2 separate regions of the Homo sapiens genome follow, and region 1 is linked to region 2. The links come from fine-mapping of genetic effects on gene expression. A gene starts in region 2. The other region holds a variant in brackets. All regions are shown on one strand. Distances are from middle to middle.

Evidence for each region. PIP is the estimated chance that this variant, and not a neighbour inherited with it, causes the effect.
Region 1: its variant is fine-mapped to the expression of PLEKHB2 in whole blood (TOPMed, PIP above 0.99).

What each region holds. Positions count from the first base shown.
Region 1 is chr2:131,134,788-131,137,695 of GRCh38, reverse strand. The region is part of intron 6 of PLEKHB2 (pleckstrin homology domain containing B2); the gene reads right to left. Among named protein-coding and RNA genes, the nearest start is that of PLEKHB2, 31 kb to the right of the region's middle. The variant A/C (reference allele first, on the strand shown) is at 1,311.
Region 2 is chr2:131,104,067-131,106,974 of GRCh38, reverse strand. PLEKHB2 (pleckstrin homology domain containing B2) reads right to left here and starts at 1,639. Exons shown (of 8, transcript NM_001100623.2): 1 at 1,577-1,639. RefSeq lists an enhancer at 1,786-1,915.

The DNA of each region.
Region 1 (2,908 bases), 31 kb before region 2:
GAAACTATTCATAAAATTAATAAAACCTTTAGTAAACTATCAAAAAGAGCAAAGACAAATTACCAGTATCAGGAATGAATGAACTGGAGGATTTTTACTATAGACTCTGCAGACATCACAAGGATAATAAGAAAACACCATAAAGAACTCTACACATCTAAGTCAGACAACCTATAAGAAAAGGAACAATTCCACAAAAACTACAAACTGTCAAAACCTACTCCATACAAACTAGAGAATTTGAGTAGACCAGTCACTAATAAGAAAGCTGTATCTGCGGTGGACCCAGAAGAAAGGTCATGTGAGGATACAGGGAGGAGGAGGCCATGTGCAAGCGCAGGAGGGGCCTCAGGAGAACCAATGCTGCCCAACACCTTGACCTTGGGCTTTCAGCCTCCAGAACTGTGACAAATAGATGTGTGTTGGTTAGGCCAAAAAAAGTAAAAAGAGGCCGGGCACAGTGGCTCACGCCTGTAATCCCAGCACTCTGGGAGGCCGAGGCGGGCAGATCACGAGGTCAGGAGATCGAGACCGTCCTGGCTAACACAGTGAAACCCCGTCTCTACTAAAAATACAAAAAAATTAGCCGGGTGTGGTGGCAGGCGCCTGTAGTCCCCGCTACTCAGGAGGCTGAGGCAGAAGAATGGCGTGAACACGGGAGGCGGAGCTTGCAGTGAGCCGAGATCACGCCACTGCACTCCAGCCTGGGCGACAAGAGTGAGACTCCGTCTCAAAAAAAAAAAAAAAGAAAGAAAAGAAAGAAAAAAAGAAAAAAGATGTTGTCACTTAAAATCTCCCAAAAAAGAAATCTCCAAGCCCTGACAGTTTCACTGGAGATTTCTACCAAATTTTAAAGAAGAATTAATGCCAATTCTACACAATTTCTCCCAGAAAAGAAAAGAGCAGAAAACACTTTCCAATTTATTCTATAAGGTCAGTATTGCCTTGATAAAACAAAACAAAGTACAAAAAAAGAAAACTATAGACCAATATCCCTCATAAATATAGACGCAAAAATCCTTAACAAATATTAGCAAACTGAATTCAGCAATAAATAAAAAGAATCATACACCATGACCAAGTAGGCTTTATTCCAGGGAATGCAAGGCTGGTTCAGTATGTGAAAACCAAACACTATAATCCACCATATTAGCAGGCTAAAAAGAAAAGAAAAATCTCATGATCATATTAATTACTGTAGAAAAAGTATTTAACAAAATCACTTTGGGAGGCCCAGGCAGGAGGATTGTTTGAGGCCAGGAGTTCAAGACCACCCTGGGCAACAGAACAAGACCCTGTCTCTACAACAA[A/C]AAAAAAAAATTTTTTTGCAGCCATGGTGGCTCAGGAGGCTGAGGCAAGAGGATTGCCTCAGCCCAGGAATTCCAGGCTGAAGTGAGCTAATGATAGTACCACTGCACTCCATCCTGGGCAAGAGAGTGAGACCTCATCTCTCAGGGGGTCAGGGGAGAGAGGAGAGGAGAGGAGGAGAGGGGACGGGCGGGGGAAAGGAGAGAGGGAGGGAGGGAGGGAGGGAGGAGGCAGGAAGACAGGCAGGCAAGCAACTGACAACCAGTCATGATAAACACTCCTGGAAACTAGAAAAAGGGAATTTCTAAACCTGATAAAGAATAAATATAAAAAACCTCCAGCTAACAGCATACTTAATGAATGCATTAAATACTAAATATATGCATATGTAAAACTAAATACTGAATTCAGTACTAATTAAATACTGAATTAAACAGTACATTCATAATAAATGAATGCATACTTAAAACTGAATACACTGGCCGGGCGCGGTGGCTCACGCCTGTATTCCTAGCACTCTGGTAGGCCAAGGTGGGTGGATCACAAGGTCAGGAGATCGAGACCATCCTGGCTAACATGGTGAAACCCCGTCTCTACTAAAAATAAAAAAAATAAAAAAATTAGCCGGGCATGGTGGCAGGTGCCTGTAGTCACAACTACTAGAGAGGCTGAGGCAGAATGGTGTGAACCCGGGAGGCGGAGCTTGCAGTGAGCCGAGATCTCGCCACTGCACTCCAGAGCCTGGGTGACAGAGCGAGACTCCATCTCAAAAAAAAACACTGAATACATCCCCCCTAAAATCAGGAACAAGGCAAGGATGTCTTCTCTCACTACTGCTATTCTACATAATATTTGAAGGTCTAACCAAGGCAACAAGGCAAGGTAAGGAAACAGAAGGCATAAAGGTTACAAAGAAAACAGATTCCTATTTGTAGATGACATGATTGCCTATGTAGTATATCCCAAAGAATCTACAGAAAAAGGAAATAGAGTAAGTGAGCTTAGAAAGTTTACAGGCGCCGACCAGGCACCATGGCTCATGCCTGTAATCCCAGCACTTTGAAGGCCAAGGCAGGTGGATCACCTGTGGTCAGGAGTTTGAAACTAGCCTGGCCATCATGGTGAAACCCCATCTCTACTAAAAATACAAAAAATTAGTGTGGTGGCACGTGCCTGTAATCCCGGCTACTCAGGAGGCTGAGGCAGGAGAATCGCTTGAACCCAGGAGGCGGAGGGTGCAGTCAGCCAAGATCGCGCCACTGCACTCCAGCCTGGGCAATAAGAGAGACACTCTGTCTCAAAAAAAAAAGAGAAAGTTTACAAGCTGCAAGATCAACCTACAAAAATCAATTCTATTTCTCTATACTGGCAGTAAACAAAGGAAACTAAAACTAAAAATGTAATACCATATGCAATCACTAAAAAAACTGAAACACTTATAAATCTAACAAAACATGTATGGGATTTTTATACTGAAAACCTCAAAATGCTGATGAAAAAAATCAAAGAGGATCTAAATACACATGCAGTCCATGTTTATAACTGGAAGATTCAACATTCAATAAAGATGTCATTACTCTCCAAATAAATATGACACAGG
Region 2 (2,908 bases):
AACTCAGTCCTTGAGAATAGCAGGAAATTTACTTACAGAATGTACCACCGCCTTTAAAATATAATGCTAGCAAAGAACCGCTGTCAGGTTCTGAGTTCTTTTCTGCAGCCTTCTTCAATAAGCATTTACTGACCACCTACAAAGTGCCAAACACTATGCTGTTTATTAGGGAAACCCTGCAACACAGTTTGATTCCTGTCCTCAGGGAGATCAGTACGAATAGGGAAGAGTCGAGTAAAGAGATCACCACCACAGAGAGTAAACACCAGGCACAAAGGAAGCCCAGACAAGCTCCAGTCCTATCAATATCCAGCCAACCAGCCCAGGGTTAGGAACTTTCTGAACCTAGGGAACACTCCTGAGCACCACAATTGAACCGTCACAGCAGTATTCCCACACCCCCACAGGTCCTTAGGCAGACACACCCACTGCATGGGCACAGACGCACAGCTGTGTCTGTGCATACATGTTTTGGTCATTAGTTTAGTCAACAAATACTGAGGGCCACACTAAACAGGCAGTTACCAGTGCCAGCTCGGGTCCTAATTCCTCATGTGACTTCGGACAAGTCACTTCCTGAATTGGTACTGGTTCATACCAAAGGCCACAGAAGACCTTGGAATATTCCTCCCCTCAGCTGTCAGCCCTCCTCCCTCGGTGGTGGTTCCACCCTTTCCTAAGCACTAAAAATTTAAAGGCTGAGACCATGAGTCAGTATTATTTTGAATTAACCATGTTCCTTTAATTTTTTACAGTGACCACTCCACCTCATTCCTTTCCTCCACCCACCCTGAACCGGTCTACATTTGAGATTTAAGCGGGGTGGCGGGGCGGGGATCCCTATGCAAATCCCTGACCTCCGGAGTTTTCAATCTAGTTGAGTAACAGAATCAAACATGAAGAGAGATATGTAAGATAAGGTACACCAAGCACTTATGACTAAAGACATTGCAAGGCCAAGAGCAGGTGAAATGCAGCGGGGGCGGACCGCACCGCGAGGGTAAAGCCTCAACGCCCCCCGGGACTTAAGGAGGGGAGACCTCTGGGCAGGAGAACTGAGAAGGCAAGTTCCCTGGAGCAGAGGGAGCAGCAGGGGTAGAGATCGGACGCCGGGAGACCCCAGGCGGCGGGCCGCAGCAGGTCCCGGCAGTCAGACATGTGGGACACTCCCGAGCGGCCAGAAAGGATGCAAGGCGGAGGCTGCAGTCGGGAAAGGAGGAGGGTCCGCGGGGCCGGAGAGGAGGGGCTCGGGGAAAGGACCGGAGGCGGACGCCGGGGAAGCGATGGGAAGGGGTCTGAGAGGCCGGGGGGGCCCACTGGGAGGGCTCTCGAATGGGCTGCTCTAGGGGAGACTGAGAGGGCGGACCTGGGGAAGGTCAGGGTGGTCCAGGGAGGTGGGCGGACCCGTGGCCAGGAGCCTCAGGGAAAATTAGGGAGTGGGGACACCGCGGAGGTGGCGCGGTGCGGGGTCCCCTCAGAGGGGCGCGAGGCTGGGCAGCTCTAGAGGAGAATCTGGAGAGGCGCGGGCCAGAGGGGAAAGGAGCTAGGGTCGTCCGGACTAAACAGGGACACTCACCTGCGAACCAGCGTGGAGAACACCAAGACGCCACGGCGATTCCTCGCCTGCTCGCCTGCAACTGCCGCACGTCCGGCGTCCTGGCCGCCGTTCTGACGTCACGCCTCGGCGCGCATGCGCGGCGGGCCCCGGCCGGTGGGGCGGGGTGTCTGGGTGGTTTTCTGAGAAACGGGACGGAAGGCGGCAGGGGGCGTGGGTCTCCCAGGAGGTCGGCGCTTCCACTAAAAGGAAGTGTTACAAAGTGAGATCCTGTCTTAAAAATATAAAAATTTAAAAAAAAATTGTTAGCACCCTAATCTTGGTTTCTAAATACCGCTCTCTAAAAATAGGGCCAAGGCGCCTTAGAGAAATGGGCGACTCTAGGACCCGGGCGCAGAAAGCTCCAGCTGAGCCGGGAGCGTTTTGTAGGCCAGAAGCTTGAGGTGCTCAAAAAACTGAAGGACCGGGCGTCCAAGGGCGCAGGGATCTACCCAGAGAGCTTCCGGGGGCCGCGCCTGGGACAATTTGAGCAGCAATATAAAGTACATTGCATTAAGTTATAACCTAAAGTATAAAACAGCCCAGAGCCCGTGCTGCTATAAATACGTGATTAAATAAATGAGGGAGAAGGGATAATCTTCCTTGCAGAGGAATTCTAATAATACCTCATCCAGAGGGGTGTGGTAATCCGTCCACACCCACCCTGAGTGTGGCCTATGCCTGGGGACGACCTTTCCAAGAGTACAGTGTGGAAAGAGGGCTGTAGAGCCACTCCACGTGAAAATCAAAGTGATTAGTCACTGCACTTGCCCTTGACATGTGATTAAAAAAAAAACCGTGACCTCAGTCTAACTGAAAGATAAACATCAGACAAATCTCGTTTGTGGGATATTCCTCAAAACACCTCACCAGTACTCCTCAAACTATCAAGGTAATCAAAAGCAAGAAAAAAACTGAGACACTGTCATATGCAACATGGTGATGTAGCTAGGCTATAAACTTAAAATAAAATTTAAGTTTAGGTAATAGTAGTTTTTAGTTATAAGAAATGTATAATGGTTATGTAAGATGTTAACATTAGGAGAAATTGTGTGAAGGGTATACTAGCTTTATAACTTTTTTGTAGTCTAAAATTATTCCAGATGAAAAGTTGGGGGTTTTCTGAAGACAATAGAGGGAAAATAAATGTTAGCCAGGTGAGATGGTTCATGCCAGTAATCCCAGAGCTTTGCGAGCCAGAGGCAGGAGGATTGCTTGAGCCCAGAAGTTTGACCTGCAATCAAGCCACTGCGTTCCAGCCTAGCAGGGGTTGGGGGGTGGTGTAGGGGTACTGCCTGGAAAGAGGCTTGAGAG